Linked DNA regions of Homo sapiens. The protein of the gene in region 4 interacts with the protein of the main gene of each other region in a pairwise test. Each region holds a gene or a part of one and is shown on either strand. Other genes may lie near its edges. The genes, in order: SYAP1, ASZ1, ARL13B and TNFRSF10C.

Region 1 (7,808 bases), on a different chromosome or scaffold from region 4:
GGAACCAGGAAGTATTTAGTGTCCAGTCTTGAAGGTAGGCACTCAACAAATATATGCAGAACAAATGGGGCTCCCAGGAGATTTTTTTTTTTTTTTTTGTGAGATGCAGTCTCACTTTGTCACCTACACTGGAGTGCAGTGGCGCGATCTCGGCTCACTGCAACCTCCGCCTCCCGGGTTCAAGCGATTCTCCCGCCTCAGCCTCTTGAGTAGCTGGGATTATAGGCGCGCACCACCACGCCCAGCTAATTTTTGTATTTTTAGTAGGGACAGGGTTTCACCACGTTGGTCAGGCTGGTCTCGATCTCCTGACCTCGTGATCTGCCTGCCTTGGCCTCCCAAAGCTGCTGGGATTATAGGCGTGAGCCACCGCACCCGGCTGATATTTTATGTAGATTTCAAAAGACTTAAGAAATGAATCTACTCTGGGAGTCAGGCTCACAGATGTTTAATTCCAGTTTTCAAAACATAAATGGGTCTTCTTAAAGACAATATACTTCTTAGGATCAATATGTAGAAATAAAAAATATCTGATCATCTCTCTTGTCTCTCACAGTTTGTATATGAACTAGAACCTTTACGACTTTCTAAAATCACATAAATTTCAGAAAAGAAAGAATTCTCATTTATTCTGAAGCTTTAAATTCACAATGTGTGTGTGTTTGTGGGTACTTCCATCTAACCTCAGCTTCCGTAAATATCAAAAGAGAATCTGGTGAGCAGAAAGATGGCAGCATTAGCTCCAAAGTACACATCCATATGAAAAATGCAGTTATTAGAAAATATTCAGAGGGGCCAGGCACGGTGGCTCACGCCTGTAATCCCACCACTTTGAGGCCAAGGTGGGTGAATCACTTGAGATCAGGAGTTTGAGACCAGCCTGACCAACATGGTGAAACACTGTCTCCATTAAAAATACAAAAAAAAAAAAAATTAGCCAGGTGTGGCAGCGTGTGCCTGTAGTCCCAGCTACTCAGGAGGCTGAGGCAGGAGAATTGCTTGAACCCAGGAGGTGGAGGTTGCAATGAGCCGAGATCGTGCCATTGCACTCCAGCCTGGGCGACAGAGCAAGACTATTCTATCTGGGGGCCTTGGGCTGAGATTATACACTGTCATGGTTTGAGATTATGTCTGTTTTCCCTGTCCTTTCATCCCACAGTAAACTTTTAAACGTTAGGGCCCAGCCTGCCCAACATCGCGAAACCCCATCTCTACTAAAAATACAAAAATTAGCTGGGCGTGGTAGGGCATGCCTGTAATCCAAGCTACTGGAGAGGATAAGGTAGGAAGATCACTTGAACCCTGGAGGTGGAGGTTGCAGTGAGCCAACATCGTGCCACTGCACTCCAGCCTGGGCGACAGAGTGAGACCCTGTCTCCAGAAAAACTGTTCGGCCCTTTCTTACTCAAATATGTGTTTATCTACTCTCAGGCTGCTCTCCTCCCACATCCCTGTCTCCACCCCCATCCCCCCACCCCCATCTTTTAGTAGATTCTTCAAATGTTGCTGAACTTAGTATCTACCTTTGTTGCAGTTCTCTCACTTGTAGTGCTGGGCTGCTTTAGGGCTCACCTCCTCAAAGATGCTTTTTTGTTTTGTTTTGTTTTGTTTTTTTGAGATGGAGTCTTGCTCTGTCACCCAGGCTGGAGTGCAGTGGTGCGATCTCAGCTCACTGCAACTTCCACCTCCCCAGTTCAAGCGATTCTCCTGCCTCAGCCTCCTGAGTAGCTGGGATTACAGGTGCCCGCCACCACGCCCGGCTATTTTTTGTATTTTTAGTAGAGACGGGGTTACATCGTGTTGGCCAGGCTGGTCTCGAACTGCTGACCTCATGATCCGCCCACCTCAGCCTCTCAAAGTGCTGGGATTACAGGCCTGAGCCACCATATCCGGCCTCAAAGATGCTTTCTGTGATCACTGAAGCCCACCATGGTCTCTCCAGAAATGAGAATTACTACAGCATGTGTTTACTCCACGTCTATTATCACCTGTCCCCCAACCCCTGTAGACTGTAAACTTGGAAAGAGCACGGGCTTTAAAATGAGAAAGATCGAAGCTCAAATTCCACTTCTACCACTCACTATCAGTATAACTTTGGCCCAATAACTCTGGGCTTGTTCCCCCAACTCACTGGGGGTGTTTAACAGATGAAATGGGATATCTTTCATAAAACATCTAGTACTGCAACTTGCGTATAGCAGACAGTTGGCATTTTCTCTCCCTCCTTAAGGAAAAAGGTCTCTGTACCTAAAAAGCATTTGACCGGGGCAGACATTGACATTCAGTAACTGTCAGTTTACTTCAGACAACACGTTCTGACCTAGGGGCAAAAAATTATTTTTTCAACCAATTCAAGCTCGCCAACTATCCCCGATCTGGGGGGTGTAAATGAAGGTTTTCGAGTTGAACAAAAAAGATTCCTTGTCAAACCTGAAGACGTCGGGTCACACTGCTTGACTGCATACCTGATTCCAATGTCTGCAAACTTTGTAGACTTGTCACCAGGAACTTCAGGGACAGGACCTGACTGCTAGATGAAGCTCTGGCCTCGTCCAGATCCTCACCAATCTCTCCCGACCCGGAGAGGACTGACCGACAGACACATCTTCCTCCCCTGCCTCCCACCTCGGCCCCCTCATCCCCCAGCCAGTCGGGCCCGCGCCCCAGGGCCGTCCCAGAGGAGGAATGCGCCCCCCCCTTCCCGGTCCCAGAGCCAGGGTAGACTCACTGCCGAAGTCTTTGGCCTGGTGGAGGAGCTCCTGGTCTCCCGCTTGCTGCAGCTCCTCCTCCGCAGACTCAGCCACCGTCTCGGACGGCTGCTCGGGTGGAGCATCTCCATTGGGCTGCCCACCGCCTGCCACCGGCTGCTGCAAGCCCAACCAACTGCTCAAGCCCCGGAACATCCCGCTCGCGGGCCGCCGCCGCGGTCCCGATCCCCAGAGACCGCAGCGAGCACTGGTTGCCTTTGACTCCACTCTGCGCGACTCCCAGGGAGATGTCCGGAAGTCGGAGGAACACCGCAGCCGCCGCAGCCCCGCCTCTATGACGACTCCGCCGCGGCCGCGCAAGCGTCACTTCCGTCCAAAGGCTCCGCCCCTGGTGACGTCAGTTGTGACAACTGTTTTGTGCGCGTGGATAGGGGACAAAGAGCTTTCCCAGCGTAGCCCTGCCTTCCCTCTTTTCCTCATTCGCCAGCTTTGTAGGTGACTGACCTAGTAGGCATGTGGACGGTGTCTTTGTCACAGTCCTAGCCAGTCCCATTTTAAGATTGCCTCTAGGCAGCTTGGCTGGTGACTTAGTCTCGCCTTTTCAGGTCCCGCAGGGCTGCGTTCCCGCAGAATTGGATGTCTTTAGCCTCCTCCTGAGCCCAATTCAAAACTAACCCAAAGCCGCCAAGCCCAACAGGGAATAAGAGGACAGAATAAGGTGTTAAACAACACAATGGGATGCTGTCAGCAGAATCTAGACTATGAGAAGCCACAGGACAGACAACCTTGTTTCTTCAAATAAATTGCAAGGAAGAGAGGAGTGTGGTGGGGAACCTATAGATTAAAAAAGACTTAAGAGATGTAACACATGGCCCCTTGTGCATTTTATTAGGATCCTAATTCAGCAAACACATTGAAAAAAATAGTATGATACTTATTATAAGAACTGGAAATTTGGACACTGGGTAGTTGATAAAATTAAGGAATTGTGAAATTACAAAATTTTAATTGTGGTAAAATACACAAAATTTACCATCTTAATATGATTTACCATCTTAACCGTTTCTAAGTGTACAATTCAGTACTGTTAAGTACATTTACATTGTTGAGCAATCAATCTTCAGAACTCTTCATCTTGCAATTAAAAGAATGAAAAATAGTCCGAGTGCGGTGGCTCACGCCTGTAATCCCAGCACTTTGGAAGGCCGAGGCGGGAGGATCACAAGGTCAGGAGTTCGAGACCATCCTGGCTAACACGGTGAAACCCCGTCTCTACTGAAAATAGAAAAAAATTAGCCGGGCGTGGTGGCGGGCGCCTGTAGTCCCAGCTACTAGGGAGGCTGAGGCAGGAGAATGGCGTGAACTCGGGAGGCAGAGGTTGCAGAGTCCATTCTCAAAAAAAAAAAAAAAAGAAAAAAGAAAAATAGAACTTCATCTTGCAAAACTGAAACTACCTATGAAACAACTCCCCATTCCTGTCCTTGTCATCCCCCTCCTCCCCCCATTCTACTTCTTGTCTCTATGGATCTGACTAGATACCTTAATATAAGTGGAATCATTCAGTATTTGTCTGTAACTGGCTTCTTTCACTTAGTATAATGTCCTCAAGGCTGTGTCAATTTCTTTTTAAGAGTGAATAGTATTCCCTTGTATGTATACACCACGTTTTGTTTATCCATCTGTTTATCCACCGCACATATTGAGATTTTACCAAAGAAATGATACCATATCTGGGCCAGGCGCAGTGGCTCACGCCTGTAATCCCAGCGCTTTGGGAGACCGAGATGGGTGGATCACCTGAGGTTAGGAGTTTGAGACTAGCCTGACCAACATGGTGAAACCCCGTTTGTACTAAAAATACAAAAAATTAGCTGGGTGTGCTGGCGGGCGCCTGTAATCCCAGCTACTCGAGAGGCCGAGGCAGGAGAATCACTTGAACTCAGGAGGCGGAGGTTGCAGTGAGCTGAGATCCTGCCATTGCCCTCCAGCCTGGATGACAAGAGCAAAACTCCGTCTCAAAAAAAAAAAAAAGAAAAAGAAAAAAAGAAATGATGCCACGTCTGGAATTTGCTTCAAATTAATACAGGATGGGGGTGGGGGGAATGGGGGGGGATATAGATGAAACAAGCCTGGCCATGGGTTGAAGCTGGGTAGTTAAACATTTGTCTTTTTTATATTTTTAACTTTTCCCACAATAACATGTAAAACTAACAAAAAACTAGTGATGTGCATAACTACCCCTTCAGAGCAGGGAGTTCATGGACACATTTCCCAAGCACAGTCTTCAGTCATTAATTGTGGAAGGACATCCATGATTCCTTGCTCCCCAACTATTTTGAGAAGAGGAGGACAGTTCCGGTGACCTGAGGGAATACATGAGGAATTGATTACAACTCTGATTTCCCTGCTGTCCAGTTTTCCAGCCTGACTTATATTTATATTTTATTCAGGTCCAGGATTTTAGGTTATCAAGCCCAACCTGTTTTTTTCTTTCCCCCAAACAGCTGAGATTTAAACAATTCACCTGTTTAAAGTGTACAATTCAATGGTATATATTTTTGGTGTATTACACTATTAATATTTTAAATTGAAGTAAAAATAAATTTTTTTTAGTGTACAGTTCAGTGGCATTGATGACATTCCAGCCTGTTTTTAGAGTCCAAGTATTGATTCAGCTTTGAAGTCAGGAGATGTCTTAGGATCAATGCCTTTCTAGGCTTTATTAAGTCAATGAGAACCTGAAAGTGGTTGAGACTTTCGGGAATAGGATATTTGCTTCAAGTATGATTGAACAGAGCCTGGAATTTGAGTGAGAAGCCTAGGATGGGCTTCTAATTCCACCATCTAGTAGGTGAATAAACTTGACTTTTTTTTTTTTTTTAGACGGAGTCTCACTCTGTCTTGCCCAGGCTGAAGTGCAGTGGCACAATCTCGACTCACTGTATCCTCTGCCTCCTGGGTTCAAGCAATTCTCCTGCCTCAGCCTCCCAAATAGCTGGAATTACAGGCACCTGCCACCACACCTGGCTAATTTTGTATTTTTAGTAGAGACGGGGTTTCACCATGTTGGCCAGGCTGGTCTCGAACTCCTGATCTCAGGTGATCCACCCACCTTGGCCTCCCAAAGTGCTGGGATTACAGGAGTGAGCCACCGCACCCGGCCTAAACTTGACGTTTTACTCATCCTTTTGCCCCTCAAGTTCCCTCACTTGCAAAAGAAGTATAGTGCTGGTCCTTCCCACAGCAGAGATAGGGCCCAGCCCTTTCAGCCTTACTCTGCTTTATCTTAAGGTACACTCAAAATCGTGGTGAACACTGTGGTCACCAAGGGATAGACAGTTTTACAACTCTTCTGAAAGGTAGAATTCTTAAAAATAAGAGATTAGGCTGGGCACAGTGGCTCATGCCTGTAATCCCAGCACTTTGTGAGGCCGAGGTGGGAGGATTGCTTGAGTCTAGAAGTTTGAGACCAGCCTGGGCAACATAACGAGACCCTGTCTATACAAAAAATAAAAAATGAGCTGGGTGTAGTGGCTTGCACCTGTCGTCTCAGCTACTCAGGAGGCTGAGGCAGGGGGATTGCTTGAGCCTGGGAGCTGGAGGCTGCAGTGAGCTGTGATCGTGCCACTGCACTCCAGCCTGGGTGATAGAGCGAGACCCCGACTGAAAAAAAGAAAAAAAAAAAAGATTACAAAACAAGAACATAAGCAATCAACTTAATGATGGGCTTCATTTTCATTTTAAAAAAATCATCTGGCCAGGCACGGTGGCTCATGCCTGTAATCCCAGAACTTTGAGAGGCCGAGGCAGGTGGATCACCTGAGGTCAGGAGTTCGAGACCAGCCTGGCCAACATGGTAAAACCCTGTCTCTACTAAAAATACAAAAATTAGTCGGGCGTGGTGGTGGGCGCCTGTAATCCCAGCTACTCAGGAGGCTGAGGCAGGAGAATCACTTGAACCCGGGAGGTGGAGGTTGCAGTGAGCTGGGATCATGCCATTGCACTCCAGCCTGGGCGACAAGAATGAATCCCCACCTCAAAAAAAAAAAAAAAAAATCATCTTGTGCGGATTCAGCAAGATGTTATGCTGGTGGTGGGCCATGAACTGACACTTGTTGAATGAGGATACATCCTTATCCCACACAATTCAGTCAATCCACACCCTGTTATCAAATTTGTTTTCCAGCTCATTATTTTTCCCATTTGAGATTAATAATACAATAGTTATTATAATGAGCCCTTTGTATATACAGATTATCTTTTATCCATTAGCCTCATGGATGAATAGAATAGGACAATTGGATCAGGCCTCACATCCTGTGGTGGAGTCTGGCTGTGCATTGATGTCCTGGCTTTGCCACTCATATTAACTAACGTACCCTTGGTCAAGACATTTCACATCTCTGAACCTCAGGTCCCTCATTCTAAAAAGGGGATCATAACAACTGTCCTGGTTCTAAAAAGATAATGAAAGACGGAACTGTGGAAGGAAACCTTACATATGCGGCAGGTATTAAGTATTAGCACCCATACCAACCCATTTCACAAACATTCTTTCCCCTGAGCCCTCTGGAAGACTTGTTTATGCCTCTAGCCTTTTGACAAGGTGGTTCCTTGTCCCTCCCCTGGACCCCCCAACACCCATGGAGACCTGGATCTCCCCCAAGGCTACCCTGCTGAGTGAAGCGTCTGCTTATTTTCCCAGAAATTGACATCATTGTTCCAAGTTCCTTACTGCTTCCTCCACAACACTGTTCTTTCATCCTTGGTGGGGAGAAACTCCATTGTGTTTATTTTATTTTATTTTTTGAGATGGAGTTTCGCTCTTGTCGCCCAGGCTGGAGTGCAATGGCGCGATCTGGGCTCACTGCAACCTCCACCTCCCGGGTTCAAGAGATTCTCCTGCTTCAGCCTCCTGAGTAGCTGGGACTACAGGCACCCGCCACCGCGGCCGGCTAATTTTTTGTATTTTTAGCAGAGACGGGGTTTCACCGTGTTAACCAGGATGGTCTCGATCTCCTGATCTCGTGATCCACCCACCTCGGCCTCCCAAAGTGCTGGGATTACAGGGGTGAGCCACCATGCCTGGTCGTGTTTATT
Region 2 (7,036 bases), on a different chromosome or scaffold from region 4:
GTGGCGGGAGAACTGCTTGAGCACAGGTGTTTGAGGCAAAAAAACCCACAAAAAACAAAAAATGAAAAAAAACCACACCTCTTTAATTGCAATAAGTAAAATTTAAGTAACTTTAAATGGGGTAAGGAGAGAATTATTTTTGGCCATGTACTCAACAGTGGTGTTCTGGGGGGAAAAGTATATGTTTAATTTTAGCTTATAAAATTAGAACTGTACTAAAAATAATTAGAAAACAAGGTGTTATACTGTTTGAACACTAATATAATTTCAGAACCTTTTAAAAATAGATTTTATTGTTGATATCTTACTTAAAGTTTACATTTAAAGTTATTATCATTAGTGTTAGTACATAAAAATGAATAAAAATTTTCTAAAATTCTGGAGAACACTAAAAACCCAGACATTTAAAAATGCTTGTAAACATTTAAAATATCATATATTTTAAATAAGTCACCACATTTACTACAATAAAATATACACAAATTTTACTTATAGGTATTCTGTTGAACTAAAACATGCTATATTACCTAAAAATGTGATCTTTTTCTCTATCAGAATCTGTTGTCAATATTTTACAAATAGTGTCTTCTTTAGTTAGCTGTTGAAGTTTTCCTTCCAATGGATTTAAAGTAAAAGAAAGTAAGTTGAAGATCTGAAAAAAGTTAACATCATTCAAATATAATTAACATTGCATACTGTAACTTACACTTAAAAGAAACTGAACATACGATTATCTCATATCCAGAAAGGAAATTTTAGCAAGTAAGTGGGACAGATGTTTCACAATTTACTACCCTGATAACAACTTTTAAAAAAATGATATATCACAGTTGTATATATTTTGGGGGGTACATGCGATATTTTGATACACATATACAATGTATAATAAACAAATCAGGGTAATTGGGATATCTAAGTGCTTCCTTAACCTACAATAATCAGAAAAGAAAAAAGTACATCTAATTCAAAATAGTAAAAATTAAAGGAAGATAGTAATTAATATTTTTGGTAAGATACATAGCGAAACTAAAAATTCCATTTGGATAAATGACTCAGATTAAATATTAAGATAGTACTTTAAAAACATTGCTAAGTGGCAAGAGAGTAATGAGCATGACTAAATGTATACAAATCCTAACTGAACACCTCAAAAAGATATGGTGAAATTCCTGAGTTTTAAAATCTAACCTCTCAGGAAGTCAAGGTTATATCACATACTCAGCCAAAATACAAGATCAAATCTCATTTCAATAAATGATTTATGACTCAAAATAACCTTTGATGTTCATAAACTTCTTATGTCAAGTTTGGTGTCATCTACTCTACATTTAACAATGTAATAAAATAATTTTAAGTTTTTGAATTTTCAAAGTTTGGAAGAAAAATGGTAAATTCCTTTTTGAAATTCTACAGGGCTGTAGTGATTACTGTTTATCCTATAAAAATTCTGAAAATATTAGAATAATATTTGGAAAATGATAGCCATGTTTATCAGATTGCTTAAAAGGTTAGAGGAAGTTACTTTATATGCAGTAAAAGTGGCTTGGTTTGATGATTACATGACGGAATCTTTGGAATTTTACGTGCTTTCAAATTCGGGAACTCAGTGTTACAAACTCTTGAACTAAACAACTTAGTTTTATAATTGTACTATACTTGATCCTTGCTTAGAAGTTACAGACTTGTGGCTAAAGCTTTAATCTTCAGACCAAAAGTTTATATTGATAAAGTAATTTAATGTATGGCAAGTATTTATTATTGAGTTTAACATCTGAATGACAGATTATACATCCAGGTATATTATCACTTTATCGTAAGCCCTGTCACACATATAAGAGCAAATGTTGTTTAAGGAATTTAATTTTTAAATTGTTTAATACATTAATTAAACTTACAAAAGAATGTTTGAGTTACATGTTCAAACTGGCATTTTACTAGCTTTCACTAAATTACTTTTAAAATTCTGGACCAGTTTAAAATGTTTAAATAGTATATTACAATTTTATTCCTGGGGCCAGAATAAGATTTTATTACTCTTTTATAGAGCTTTTAAATTACTATAAGTGCTTCTTGTTTCATAGAAGATGAATACTCTAGCAAAATAAAGTTCTCATTACCTGGCTGGAGGAAAGATACATATTTAAACATTTAATAATTGCCAGATACACTATAATTACACTTTTAATTCTAACAGAATAATACAAAAGTTCTACAAATGATAATGTGATATGCCACAGAAAATAAGTTTAATATGTACAGAAGGATACCTCATGATGTTTGTTTCTTTTTGCAATCTCACTTGGCATCTTTCCATCTTTGGTTTGTAGCATTTTATTAGCTCCAAGTTCAAGCAACTTCAAAACTATATTTTTATGACCCTGACGTGCTGCCCACGTTAAAGCCTGTAAGTAGGGGGAAAAGAAGATTGTTTAAAGAGAAGGAGTGTATATGAGACAGACAGGAAAAGTTTTCAACAGTATTTATGACACAATAAAAAAGAGAACATAGTTAATTAATGGAATGATGCAATCTCTTCATTTTACAATATAATGTAAACATATTTCCAAAGTTGTAATTGCAAAGCTGACTGCAAAGCTCATTGATTTTTTAAAACCAGTGTTTTATACAATTAACTGATGTTAAGGAATAAAATGATTTATTTGCCAATCACTGAAGGGTTTTCTACAAAAAATAATTCTTATGTATATTTTAGAGCCCAGATTTTGCTGTGTGTTACAATTTTTTTTTTTAATCAAGAGTAAGGACTACGAGAGTCAGTTAATTCCTCATTTCTATTTCTTTTCTTTTCTTTTTTTTTGAGATGGAGTTTCGCTCTTGTTGCCCAGGCTGAAGTGCAGTGGTGCGATCTTGGCTCACTACAACCTCTGCCTCTTGGGTTCAAGCGATTCTCCTGCCTCAGCCTCCTGAGTAGCTGGGATTAAAGGCACGTGCCACCATGCCTGGCTAATTTTTTGTATTTTTAGTAGAGACAGGGTTTCACCATGTTGGCCAGGCTGGTCTCAAATTCCTAACCTCAAATGATCCGCCTGCCTCGGCCTCCCAAAGTGCAGGGATTACAGGTGTGAGTCACCATACCCTTCTATTTCAACTGTTGCTTTTTTTCACCAGATAGCAATTATATTCCAGCCCTTTTGTAATTATTACTTCTTAAAATTCTTTTTTTGTAGATTACTGATAATAACAGAAACAAAAAGAAACATTGTAAAAATGTTTCTCACAGTGTAACCATTCTCATCCTGGGTATTAACTTCTGCTCCATGAGCAACAAGGAGAGCAACAACCTGGGTGTGACCATCTCGAGCAGCATACATGATTGGGGTCATAAGTCTCCTAAGGAGGAGGAAGAAAGGAAACATTTGTGTTAATGCTGCCATTAATCTCTCATTTTCATTAATTTAACCATACACAATACCACCAGTACTGCTTTGAAAACGAAAAGAAATGAAAGCTTTTGCTAAATCAGGTGATTTAAAAATCCAACCTTCCTGCAAGTAAGTACAAGTGAAAGAGATGACACTTTTAAAGTGCTGAATGCTTACACAGCACCCTCTAGTGAATAAATGTATTAAAAATACATGAAATAAGCCACGCTTTCTACTATGAAGTTCACTAATATACATATTCATCTAGAAAATTATCAGTGTACCCACACTATGCTTATGCTAGGAATATAGTAATGAATGACACAAATAAGGTCCCTGCCCTCAAAGGATTTGCTAATACTAAATGCTTATTACATTTTATTTAGAGGATTGCTGAAACAAAAATGTAAATTTAAAAACTTCATTCCTTAATGTATTCTATTATGATTCTACTTTAGTCTGAGACTGAAAGAATTTTATTCTGACTGGGAGACTTACTATATATAATTAGAAAAGAGATAAGTCCAATAGATTAACCAGCTTAATATTCTCTTAAGAGTACTTTCTGGGAGAGGATAGTGGTTTCTCTGTAGTTTATCATTTCCCAAAATTAGAGATTCAATCCTTCTACTCCTGGAAGTTAGTCACCTTCTGGGCCTATTCCAAGGACACCAGATTTTATCAGCTCTACTTGGGCTGAACATAACATCATGGTCTGTTTTAAAGGAGGTCTGAGACTCTGAGCCCAATTTTCCTGAGTCGTCCTCAAGATCTGATTTATACACAAAGAACTTTGGAAAAGAAAAATAAATAATTTCAGAGTTCCATGTTTTGATCTTACCAAGAAAGTTTTTATTGGTTATTCACATTACATATACAACCTACCAATAGACTATTTCTCTGTAAGGTTTGTTAGCATAAGGTTATACCCTGAAATCTGAACACTTCACACCTATGTCCTTGTTAGCACAATTCATATATATCTGTTTCTTATATTTCATGGTATATTATAATTTGAATGTTTTATGTGAAATTATATGCTAAATCAGTTGTAAAAGATTGCCTCCTCTACCTTGAATATCCCTTACATAGTGGCTTCATTAGATAGACAATCTTTATGAGGTAAAGATTGAATTTCCTGGATAACTTAAGCAAACATAAAAAAATATATACAACTAGCCAGGTGTGGTGGCTCAGGCCTGTAATCTTACCACTTGGGGGGCTAAGGCAGGTGGATTGCTTGAATCCAGGAGTTCGAGACCAGCCTGGGCAACAGAGGAAAGCCCTGCCTCTACCTCTACTTAAAAAAAAAAAAAAAAAAAAATTAGCTGGATGTGGTCTGCACAACTGTAATCCCAGCTACTTCAGAGGTGGGAGAATCACCTGAGCCTGGGAGATCAAGGCTTCAGTGAGCCGAGATTGTGCCACTGCACTCCAGCCTAGGCAACCAGAGTGAGACCCTGTCTCAACAACAACAACAACAACAACAACAACAACAACAACAACGCCACCCAAAACCCCCACATACACACATACGTGGCAACAACAAATTATTTGAATTAACCATTCGAATTCAAATTCTTCATTACATCTAAATCCGAACTGTTGATGTCTCATCTCCACTGCACTTACCTGCATAATAACCCAAATCTGCTCCTCTCAGTCTTCCCTATTTCATAAAGCCACCATTAACCACATTACTCAGGCTTAAGACTAGGCATAATTCATGACTCTTCTCTGTCATTCCAAGTACAAGTCACCGGCAGCTCCTATTAGCCCTGCCTTCATAATCTGCTTCTGATCACTTTTCATCACCTCATTAGCCACTGCAGTGGTCCAAGACAACATCATCTTTCTCTGATTTATATTGCCATAGTCTCATAACTGCTCTCCTCCATGCTTCCATTCTTGGCCACTTACAGTTTATTGTCTTTGAAAATGCCAAGATCTCCCCTTTGCAGGAACTGTGCAAGTGCTCTTGCCTGTCCCCAGACCTTCATATTGCTAACTCCTTATTCTTATACAGATCCTTATTAAGAGAAGATCAGTAAAATTTTCAAACCTCTAGCTAGACTGATTAAGCAAAACAGAGAGAAGAAACAAGTTACCAGTATCAAGAACAAGAGAAGTAACATCAGTACAGATTATCCAGATTTTAGAAGTATGAGGAAGTATTATGAACAAATTTATGCCAATAAATTAGACAGTTTAGATGAAATGGATAAATTTCTCAAAATACACAAGCTACCACAGCTCACTCAAAAAGAAATAACCTGAATAGCCCTAGACTTATTTTTTAAAAACTTAATTAGTAATTATAAATTAAATTAAATTTTCCACAAAGAAAACAGCAGGCCAGATGGCTCCACTGGTGAATTCTACAAAACAGTTAATGAAAACAACATCAATTCTAAACAAACTCAACCAGTAAACTAAAGAGGGGAAGATGCTTCCCAACTCATTCTATGAAGCAAAATTACTCTTATACCAAAACCAGAGGGTGCCATTATAAGGAAAGAAAACTATAAACCAATAATCTTCACTGAAAATAAAAATGTTTTAAACAAATTTTAACAGAATCCAAAAATACATAAAAAGGTTAATACATCATGACTACAGGCAATTATCCTAGGAATGCAAGGCTGGTTTGATATTTGAAACATCAATCAATATAATGTACCATATTAACAAACTAAAAATGAAAAAAAACCCTCAACAAATGCAGAACAAGTATTTTACAAAATCCAACATTTATTTCTAACAAAAACACTCAGCAACATAGGAATAGATGAGAACTTCCTCAACCTGACAAAAGCATCTATGGAAAATTTACAGTTAACATCATATTTAATGGTGAAAGAGTACTTTCCCCCAACATCAGAAACAAGACAAGGATGTATGCTCTCACATTTCTACCCAACATTGTATTGGAAGTTCTAGCCAGCGGAACAAGACAAGGAAAAAGAAAAATGGTAGGCCTCCAGATGGGAAAAAAAGCAAAATTGTCTTTATTCACAGACAGCATGATGTATATAGAAAACCTGATGGACTCCACAAAAAAAGTACTAGAACTAATGAATTTGGCAAGGTTACAGCATTCAAGAGAAATATTTAAAAAATCAATTGTATTTCTTCATGCTAGCAATGAACAACATGAAATGAAAATAAAACAATACAACTTAAGTAAAAATATAAAAGCCAGGAAATCTATTGCTGTTTATTAGAAATGCACCTAGTATTTGCATATATGCATATATAAATACAGGGTGATGGTGATGTATTTGAATATATCTGACTTACAGTTGTCTAAGTAACAATTTGGATCCAGAAGTCTTTTTTTTTTTTAAGATTCAGGAGGTACACGTTAAGGTTGGTTAATGGGTATATTGTGTGTTGCTGAGGATGAGGTTTGGTCTTCTATTAATCCCACCACCCAAGTAGTGAATATAGTACCTAATAGGTAGTTTTTCAACCCTTGACCCCTCCTTGCCTCCTCCCCTTTGGATTCTCTAGTGTCTATTTTTAACTGAGCATCCCAGCCTCAAAATGCATTTTAAAACTTTTTTTCCTTTCTTGTTTTCAGCTTTGAAACATATTTTGAAATGCTTTGTTTCTACTTTTCCCACCAGGCACTTCAATGAACAGTGCTTGCT
Region 3 (3,060 bases), on a different chromosome or scaffold from region 4:
CTTTTTTTCCCCCCTCAAAAAACAGGTATCTATTATTCTGTTTCTGTAAAGATAAAGGATTATTGCTATTTTGATAACCTATGCCATGCTTAATTGAAAATTTTAAAATATTTGAATTTGTTCTTTGGATCAGTTGGAATATACTTCCTGATAAATTAATAAACCATTATTAGCAGAATCTCAGTTGCAAAGCATATTCCACTTAGCAAAAAAATTTACTAAGTAAAGCCAAGGATGATAAAGTTTATAAGCTACAGCTTTATATGTATAAACAATTTAGCTTGTGAATAGCTTTTGCTACCTAGAAGCATTTGATTTCTTTAGTTGTATTCTGCAGGTGAACTGCTCCACGATGTTCACAGGTTTTACATATTAAGGGAATTGTAGTCTTAATCTGGCATTTATAAAAGCACTTAATTTTAAACTTGCAGAAAACATGGTACTTAAATAATTTATACAATATTATAAATTTGCCTCCCTCACTACAAAAGTAAGCCAAACTACATTTCTTTCTAGTGTTGTTTCTATGCATAGTTTTATATTTGAAGTCAGTTACATACAATATCATGTATACTACGTAATATGCATTTTACACATAAAGGCACACAAGAGCCTCTTTTAAATACATAAAAACATATCTGTTGACCAACAGCTTTAACGCAAGACAGACATCAAATCCTCTAACATCATATGGTGAAATGCTATTTGTAGCTGCATTTAAAATCACAAATTCTTTCCCACATACATAAAAACTTGCAGAGAGAAAAAAGTTTTGTGTGTAAAGTATCAAAAAAATGCATTATTTTAATCTACTGATTTAAACTGTTTTTCAATAATCATATTTTAAAATCTTTACCTATTTTATTACCCAAAGGAAATCATTTAAATCTACCAATTGAAAAGAGAAACAGAATATTGATATAAATTATTTTTATTGTGTGAAAATGTCAAAATTCAGAATTAAGAATAAAAGTATAACATATAACAAAATAGGCATTTAATTGTTAAAATACACCTGGATTTACAAAACATTTTTTAAAATGTTTTTAAAATGCTTAAGGAATAAAAATTAATTTTTGAGAGAGCTATATAAAATGTGAATTCTATATTATATTTAATTTCAAAATCATTTATTTTTATTAAATGAAGCCAGTAGCTACACTATAGTAAACAGATAGAAAACACAAATTTTAAAAACACGTATACTCCCAAACGAGATAAATATTAAAAAGATAGCAAAAGTATGAGTTTAGTTTTAAAATTAAGTAAATGTTACAAAAAGCTATGCAATTTTCCCTCTAAAATCCTTTTCAAAGTTTACATTGTCTTTTCGTATTGCTTTTCATCACATTTCAGCCACCTCTCAAATTTAGGTTGTTACGAATTTTAGATCTGAAATCAAATGCTTTTACCTCACTCAGTGTGGTTGCTAAGTCCCATGTACAAACTCCAAGAATATATACAGTGCTGACTAGAGTACAGGTGACCTGATTATTAAAGTTCAGTGAGTTAAAAAATGTGAATAAAATCTGATGTTCTGAAGTACAATTTTTAAAGTAAATAATTATATTAAACGACATAAAATGTACTTAATGTTATCAGATACTAGCACATGTCTGTTGTGTCAGTACAAGTTACCAAAAGCACCAATCTTAACAAGGTGGTATAAAAATCATTCTGTTTATACTATTTTCATTGGATATAAAGGTTTGTTTTCAATTAAATGTAACATTATGAATCTATTATTAAAAATATACATCTAGAAGTTAGTCTAAATGCCAAATACAGAATCTTATGGATGCCATTCTTAAGTGCAAGAGAAGTGCTATCATTTTAAATTAAGAAATTATTTTGGAATTATTTATTTATAAAAGTAATTTTGGGCCAACATTTTTATTCTCATTACTTTAGTACACAAGCTGTTTCCCAGTTGTAAAACAGAAGTCTCTGGACCTGCAGTAGGTTTTCCAGTTTTTCTGCCTTTAATTTCATAGTTTAATTTCAAGGCATGAAAGAATTAGAATCACCTAAAAGAGTCACTGCAGCTTCTGATGGAACAAGGGAGTATAGGGAGCACCTTGATCTCTGAAAGTGTCTAACCTTTAAAATAGGACTTTACTGAGACTTTTAATAGTATCTCACAGAATGTATTTTGATTAATTTAAAAAACATTTAGGTACAAAAGGTATTTCCAGTCTCATTGAGTACTGTTTTCAAATCATGTAATTGTTAGAATAAAGATCTGAGAATCTACTACTTCGAAAATATATTATTTTTAAATTAGGTCAAATTACGATGTACACTTAAAGAACAACGCTATTACAAAACATACCTCAAGCCATATAAATATATCCTGTTTGTATAGTTCATGTCTGAAAGTAAATCAACTCTATTTTCCAGATATAATTTAAACAAATCATCTATAAAAAAGGTGTATAATCAATATCACAGTAATTAAAATTTTTAAAGATTTAAAAAAATATAAAAATAGTTTTAAAATTTTGGTTATAAATTCCTAGAAGTCCCCCTTCTATGTGCATATATCTTACAAAAAATATTTAATATCTAGAAATATAGGCTATTGAACAAATAGTAAAGAAAGTGCTGAGTCCATTGGCTCTTTTTGTAAAGTTTTCCTTCAGAAGTATGCTCATGAGTGGGGATGTATAAACCAGAGTCAACAGTAAATCTTGCTAATTTGGTCCAAATGCTGATTTCATGTACTGGTCATTGTGCTTCTTTTATTTTTTTAACCATGAAAAACACAAATAAGTAATTATCAAGTCAGGTCCTTGAGTATTAATCTTCTCACTAAAATTATTATGGTTATCTTGCCCCAGTCATCAATTTACAAGATGTTTCTTCTTCTGAGAAAGAAGAATGTCCCAGTTCACCTTGCTGATATTAAGAGAACTCCTCCATACGTCTTGTTTATGAGATCACATCATGAGCATCACTGTTAGGTCGCTGTGGCACAGCCAGGGGAGGCAGTGGCTTCCTATAGAAATCTAAGAAAAGAAAGAAAACCAAATGCACAAAACAGTTATGGTACATCAAGAT
Region 4 (7,393 bases):
CAGAGAACTCTAGCCCTGAATCTCATTTTACCACTTGTAAAACAGGAAAAACAACCTACCTTCATCTCCCCGGGTTGTTAGGAAATCCACTACATGAAGATGTGCATTCTCTGGCTGGAAGCAGGATACCAGCTGCCCAACGGCAGAGGCTCGGGGCATGGCACTGTCCCCACTGTCCCCATCCCTGACCTAGAAGCTAGAGCCTCACTGCCCTGCCACTCCTGGATACACGACAGAGGACCAGAACTGGGACTGTGGCCTCTCAGTACAGCCTGGGTGAGTAGCCATCTGCAGCCACCTGGATGGAGACATTTCCTGCTCACTCTTCAAACTACAACCCGGGCCAGGCGCCTACCAGAAGGACAACTGGAAGCATGGCAGGTAAACCAGGCTGTGGCCCTGCAGTGCCATCGCTGTCCTCACTTGACGTCTGGCTCCTCTGTTCCTCCATGGCCCCTCCCCGTGGTGCTCCACCCTAGTCTTCAGAAGCTTCTGCCCCAAGCTCAGGGAGCAAGTACCAGGGTGCAGGTAGGAACAGGGGCAGCCTCTGCTGGATGGAGGACAGGTGCCTGGGGATCCAGTCCAGAGTGAGTGACACCAGCCCTGAGGATGTGATTTGTCCTCCCACACCTGGTAACACAGCCCTCTGAGGTTTACACAGGGCTGCTGAAGATTTTTACCTCCTCTTCACTTTACAGGCAGGAGCTGGGGCCACACCAGAGTCACAGAGCCAGAGGGGGAGCACGGCAGGGCCCAGCCATTCACAACCTTCAATCTCAGGAGTCCTTGACAGCCTGAGAGTCCGAGATTCTGAGCCGTTGGAACTTCTCAATTCCTACTTTGATAGAGAGAGGAATGGTGTGGAAGGACCTGGCGCACAGATTGGACCAGCCCAGCATTGACAGAGCCAGGACCTGGGGTCAGGAACTGAACTCAGCTCCAGGCTCATCTGAAGTCACCCTGACAGGCTGAGGATGGAGACCTTATCTCCATTCACAGGCATGGTGGGTGGCAGGGACTGGCCCCAACTGACCAGGGTTTTCCAAGTGCACAGCTCAGAATTCAGTCTTCCCTGCTGTCTCATCTGGATACCCTGGTCTACTCCCAGTACCAAAAAACTCCTATATCCTTGAAAATTCCTAATACCATGAGGAAACAAAAATACATAGCAATGTGATGTGTTATGTTTTACATCTTAGACTAGTAAAGAATGAAAGCTAAGTGTAGCAAAGGTGTAGGGACACAGGCACATTTGTGGACTAGGTGTGACTGTAAGCTGGGTTCAGTGGTTTTTTGGAGGAAAATTCGTGAACATTTAAAGAAACTTCTGAAGTCATTTATCCCACAGAAGGAGAAGTAGAATTCAACTTGTAAGGAGTTGCCCAATAAGCTGGTGTGCATGGATATGTGGACACACGATACATACAAGGGTATTTAGTACAATGCTGTTGGAATTAGCAAAGGCCGTCAGGATGGGATCTAACCAGCTGCCCCTAGGCGGCAACAGTGAATTAAAATGTGGCTTACCCATGCAGTAAAATACAATACCCTTGTTTAAAAGAAGATCAATCTGAATGTACTGCCATAAAACATCTAATGTGATTTGTGTTAGCTCCAAAATTTAACAAAGTGATTGTACATTTAAATGCATTTAATAAGGCAAGACTGATGGAGGGATTAAAGCCTCCTTTGGGACGCATAGAGTTCACATTCCCAAAACCGTGAAACTGATGTTGCTGGCCTTGTCTACACTGGTCATCCATGCATTCTCTCTTCAGGGCCACTGTCCTGACACAGCCATTCTTCTAGCTGCCTCAGGTAAGTCCACCCACTATAAACTATTTTAAAAGTCAGTTGTGTAATTTTTGAGAGGTGAAAATGTTACTGCTTTTCTGAATTTAGCATTAATTTGTAGAAAGACAACATGCAAACTCTCATGGTTTCTGTAACCTTGCTTTGGCCTTTTCTTTTTCTTTTTTCTTTTTTTTGTATTACATAAAGAATCTTAAAAAGGGCTGTTAGCAAAAACCTCAATCAATCTGAAAGAGACCTAGAAGTCTGCATATTTTATACATAATATGTCCTTGCACTCACACTACTACCAATCTCAGTTTCCAAAGCCAACTCACAACAACTTTACACCGTTTATGCTGAAGGAAGGGGCCAGCCCCGGTCCTGCCTATGGGATACAGAGGGGACACACGGGTGGTAGTGGAAGACATTAACCAAGGCAGCACCTTGGTTAACCGCTTCCTGCCACATTCCGGCTTCCTGCCACTTTCAGGACAGAGGAGGTGAAAGTTGCTAAAGACAGCGCTGAAAAGTTTTTTCACTGGCTGTTGGTTAAACCGATCTCCAAGGAACACGTTTAAGAATGTAAACATGGGGTTAATTTTATTAACTAATTAATTAATTAATGAGAGAGGCAACCGCTCTGTGTCTTCAGGAGGCTCACTCTATGGGTTCCACCTTGACTCCCTCCCTCTCTCGATTCTGGAACTTCCCTCCCTTCGCGGGCTCGGGGCAGCCAGGGGGACCGCCTCTCTGCTCCCTCGCGGCCGGGTCCCTCCTGCCCAGCCCGGGGACCCAGTTCTTCCCCTGACTCCGACGGCGAGTTCGTCCTGCCCGGACATGCCCGGCCGCAGGTGACCAGGGCCAGGCATCCCTGCCGTGTCCCCGTCTCCCTGCCCCCTCCCGGCGCCAGGTGCGCTCTTCCCCAGCCAGGGACCGCGGCCGGGACTCACTGGCAGCAGGACCGCGACGATGACGACGACGAACTTTAGGGTCTTGGGGATCCGGGCCATGGTATGGTTCCCGACGCCGTCCTGGGTCCTGGGTCGCACCCTGCCTCGGCCATCAGGCGGCCGGGGCGCTCTGTCCCCAGAGTTCCCTAACGGTAGGAAGCGCTCCTTCACCCCTTGCATCTCTGGTCAAACTCCCAAAAATCTATCAGAAATCGTTGGCTGAGTTCGTGCGCGTGGAGAGGTTCCCACAGCTGCACTGCCAGAATCGGAGCGCAGCGCCTCTGAATTTATACCCGCGGGGGAAAAGGCGTGGTCACTTGTCACTTGCAGCAGTCACTTCCAAGCACTCAGAAAAGGGGCATGGCCTCCCCTAGCACCTCCAGGAAGGCCTGGGTTTTGGTGGTGGGTGCATGGACGGACAGGAACTGGCTCTTTCCGGCAGCGGTGACCCAGGGCCTGCGGTTTGATTCCGGGTCCTGTCCAGGCTGTAGGCAGCAGAAGGGGAAGGAGCTGAGGCGCTGCCCACTGCGCTGCTGTAGTCTGGGTAGTGAGCTCCAGAGGAGGCACTGGAGGCCCATCCTGAGCCTGCTCCCTCCCCGGGACGCCTGTCTCTCCTCTTCTTAAACCCTGAACTACCTCCTGGCCTAAGGACTTCAGTCCACTCTTAGCTTCTGCTCCCACTCCCTCCTCCCACAGCGGCCTCACTGACCAGTGCACTGATGCCACTGATGTCTCCAGCCTCCTTGCTGCTGTGACCCAGCTCCAAGCTTCTCTGGCAGGGGCTTGGTATCCCTCAGTAGCGGGTGCCTGGCACCAAGGAGGGGCCCAGTGAACACATGAGTGGACAGAATGAAGGACACAGGGGCCATGACGGGCACATGCAGAGGCTGAGGAGTAGGTAGGAGGGAGAGGAACCCCGGGGGCATCCCTAGCCACAACCTGGCACCCTTTGCATGGTCGAGGCACAGACACTCTCTGGCCGACCTTGTGGGCTCTAGTATTGAGGCCCCATGGACAGAGGAGGCCCAGGGGAGTGGCTTCCAAAGCCTGTCCCCCAGTCAAGTGTCTATCCAGGTCCAACTATCTGACCTTGGGCTACTCACCTCCCCATTGAGTTAAGCACACTGCTGCTGTGTGGAGAGATCCAATGTGTGGTACTGAAGGGTGCCAGCCTGTGACCCTAGGCAGTAAGGTCAATGGCACAACTCCTAGACCCTTGGGGTGAGTCGGCTCCTGACCTCTCACATGGTGGATAAAAGAGGATAGCACTATAGAAACAAAGATTTTTTTTTCTGCTCATCAGAAACCTGGGAATGATATGTCATCCTCTCCACAGGCTTGGATTTGAGCAATGGAGTGCCCTGGGCACCTGCCAGGCCCCAGGCACTGAGTTCGGATCAGAAATGTGTGCCAGGTCGCAGGCACTGAGAAATGTGTGGAGTCAGGAATGTGTGCTGGGGGCAGATCTAGGCAGGAGGTGAGAGGACAGGACTTCAGGAAGACTGACAGCATTAACACAGAGCCACGAGGGCCTGCAGGAAAGTCTTTAGAGCACTCCAGGCCCCTTGGCCCTGGAGGGTGGACTACACAGTGTAGACTAGAAACCAGACTGCAGGTAACACACATTCTCTGTGCCCTGTGTGGAGCACTGCCTAGGGCTAATGGCAAAAGGCTGTGAGCACCTCCAGGGAACTGGGCCTTTAGACTATAAAGTTTCCATTTGAGAGGCACTTACTAGCTTACGATGGAACACTAGCTGAAGCTCCCCCTGTGACTGAAGGACATAAAATAATCTTGAAACCTGAAAAACTCATGATGTCTTCAGAGATCTTGGAAAAGCTCTAACGGGGAGGGCAGTCCCCGAAGAGTTCTATTACAAAATGGAAATGGTTGATACGGGATCCTGGTGCCTGAGGAAGGCAAAGAGGAGACACTCATGAGCAGGGAGCCTCTGTTCCCCACAGACTGAGTCTGGAACTGAGTGAGGAGCTGCTGGATTCTGTGGTCACTTGGACACTGCCCTATACGCAGCTCTTTACTGACCAACCAAGAGCTACTTAGTTTGTAGACAGTCATTCCTAGGTGAATGGTCAACATCCTATTTGGAAGGCCACCCCTCTGATGGAAGAAGGCAAAGGCAAATTGGCTAGGTGGGTTGGATTGCATGCTGTTTTCCTAGCGTGATGGAAGATTTGACAGCAGCAAAAGCCCCTGTACTTGAGTTGTTTTCTGGCTCATGAACAGTCCTCAACGTCTTGGTCATAGAGTTGGGAAGCAGAATGTGAAAGTTGATTGCACAAATTGGGTCATTCTTGTCACACCCAACTAAAACAGAGTCAAGAGGCCATGGGGAAGAAAAATCACTGTATTACCCCCAAACTGCAATTCTCTGTAAGCCTGGCAGCTGTAACCTGAAACTATTAATAGTCCTATCTAATATCTATGGACATAACCTGCTACTGCTCTAAGACCAGCCTGACCCACTGCAGTCACTCACCAGTCAGAGCACGCCTCTTCTTCAAATTTGACAGTGCCAATGAGCTTCCTAGAAAAAAAAATAATTAGTATTTCTCCTTTTTTTTTTTTTTTTTTTTGAGATGGAGTCTCGCTGTGTCACCCAGACTGGAGTGCAGTGGTGCGATATCGGCTCACTGCAAGCTCTGCCTCCTGGGTTCACGCCATTCTCCTGCCTCAGCCCCCCAAGTAGCTGGGACTACAGGTGCCTGCCACCACGCCCAGCTAATTTTTTTGTGTTTTTAGTACAGATGGGGTTTCATCGTGTTAGCCAGGATGGTCACGATCTCGTGACCTCGTGATCCGCCCGCCTTGGCCTCCCAAAGTGCCAGGATTACAGGCATGAGCCACTGCACCTGGCCAGAATTTCTCCTTTTAAAAAAGCCTCTAAACTTCTCTTTTTGGTCTTTGGACATATCAAAGACAAGTTGGTCTTTGTATATGCCAAGCATTGCAATTCTTGCTTTTCAAATAAAGTGTATTAAATTTGGATATTCGTCTCTACATTCCCCATTGTTTCCAAGAATAATGGAAAACTGGCCTATTGAAGGGATGTCCATATGAGGCCTGACCCCATGGCAATCTCTAGGGGGACTTGAGGAGCGCATTAAAGTAGGACACATCCATACTGCTCAGTAGAACCTGCCTCAGGTTTGGAAAGTGATTGACATCAGCAAGAGATACCACCCACCATGTACTCCCTTGAGGTGGTCACCAGAGGCCATTAAATAAAAGGAGTGGTTATGGGGGAACCACAGTGATGCAGAGATGGGCTGAATCGAAACACATTCCTCTTGCTCTCTCTCAGGCACATAATGCCAATAAGAGCTGTTCTGTCTAGCAGCGGGAGAGACACAGACTGCCTATAGCTATGAGGCAGATTCCCTGATGGGGAGGCCCTCAACATACTTGGAAAGTGAGACTGAGGGCAGTGCCCTGGGGGGTACAGGTGAGTCTTGACAGGAACAGAAACTGACTGTGGATTGTCTTTTGCTTACCTGGTGGAGGCTGCAAATGCCCAGAGTGCTATTAATATAAAAGAACTGAAATAAGGTATTATTCTAGTTTGGACCACTAAGTCGCACTTCCTTGGACCAAGAAACATGCCGTTCAGTGCATAATGTTTAGCAATGGGCAGAGAGATACCCTCCTTAGAGTAATAATTTGACAGGGAAGCAGAACAGTCAACTGAAACATTGATTGTCTAAAATGGGGGGAGACACAGGCATGAAGGGCTGGCTTCCACACCTTCACTGGTGTGTGCCCCTACTCCACACGAGTGGGCTAAAGGAGTGTCCCCACCAGACTTTCCTCCATTTTTCCAGTGGATCTGGGGATGAGGAGGTAGGGAGGATGCTAGTGTGATGACTGTCATTTTGTTGGTGGTGGTGGTGGTGGTGGTAGTGGTTTTTTTTTTTTTTTTGAGACACAGTCTCGCTCTGTTGCCCAGGCTGGAGTGCAATGGCATGATCTTGGCTCACTACAAACTCCACCTCCTGGGTTCAAGTGATTCCCCTGCCTTAGCCTCCCGCCACCACGCCCAGCTAATTTTTATATTTTTAGCAGAGACGGGGTTTCACTGTGTTGGTCAGGCAGGTCTCAAACTCCTGACCTCGGGTAATCTACCTGCCTTGGCATCCCATAAGTGCTGAGATTATAGGCATGAGCCACAGCGCCCGGCCAGTGACCGTCATTTTTGTCTGTCTTCCCTGTATTACCTCACCTCTCCCCTTCTCCCCACCCACCACCTGGTACCTTGGCCACAGGGCCAGGGCTACAACTATAAACGCTGGAAGCAGCGACGACCCCTAAGCCAGGAACAGACTACGTGTTTAGACTTTTCTGTCAATTTTCTTATGGACCTGATGGGACCCCAGTCTTGCAAAACTGGGGCTAACAGTAAATGCAGCTACATAGCCTGATACAGTTTGCATGTGTGTCCCCTCCAAATGTCATATTGAAATGTGATCCCTGAGGTTGGTATGGGCCTGGTGAAGGTGTTAGCGTCATGGGGGAAGAACCCTCATGAATGGCTCACTGCCCTTTCCACAGTAATGAGTGAGTTCTCACTCTGTTAGTTCACTAGAGAGCTGGTTGTTTAAAGGAGTCTGGGACCTCTCACCTCTATCTCTTGC

Evidence for each region.
Region 1: the proteins of TNFRSF10C (region 4) and SYAP1 interact in binary tests that used the Homo sapiens proteins (3 or more experiments, as listed by UniProt).
Region 2: the proteins of TNFRSF10C (region 4) and ASZ1 interact in binary tests that used the Homo sapiens proteins (3 or more experiments, as listed by UniProt).
Region 3: the proteins of TNFRSF10C (region 4) and ARL13B interact in binary tests that used the Homo sapiens proteins (3 or more experiments, as listed by UniProt).

Annotation. Positions count from the first base shown.
Region 1 is NC_000023.11:16,714,820-16,722,627, reverse strand, and holds the start of SYAP1 (synapse-associated protein 1), read right to left. Parts: upstream 3,017-7,808; 5' UTR 2,904-3,016; coding exon 2,729-2,903; intron 1-2,728.
Region 2 is NC_000007.14:117,382,459-117,389,494, forward strand, and holds part of ASZ1 (ankyrin repeat, SAM and basic leucine zipper domain-containing protein 1), read right to left. Parts: intron 3,352-7,036; coding exon 3,240-3,351; intron 2,403-3,239; coding exon 2,268-2,402; intron 653-2,267; coding exon 528-652; intron 1-527. UniProt on the Homo sapiens protein: Plays a central role during spermatogenesis by repressing transposable elements and preventing their mobilization, which is essential for the germline integrity.
Region 3 is NC_000003.12:94,053,135-94,056,194, reverse strand, and holds the end of ARL13B (ADP-ribosylation factor-like protein 13B), read right to left. Parts: intron 3,009-3,060; coding exon 2,932-3,008; 3' UTR 517-2,931; downstream 1-516. UniProt on the Homo sapiens protein: Cilium-specific protein required to control the microtubule-based, ciliary axoneme structure. May act by maintaining the association between IFT subcomplexes A and B. Binds GTP but is not able to hydrolyze fit; the GTPase activity remains unclear.
Region 4 is NC_000008.11:23,098,533-23,105,925, reverse strand, and holds the start of TNFRSF10C (tumor necrosis factor receptor superfamily member 10C precursor), read right to left. Parts: upstream 3,006-7,393; 5' UTR 2,805-3,005; coding exon 2,745-2,804; exon of another isoform or gene 2,368-2,744; intron 1-2,367. UniProt on the Homo sapiens protein: Receptor for the cytotoxic ligand TRAIL. Lacks a cytoplasmic death domain and hence is not capable of inducing apoptosis. May protect cells against TRAIL mediated apoptosis by competing with TRAIL-R1 and R2 for binding to the ligand.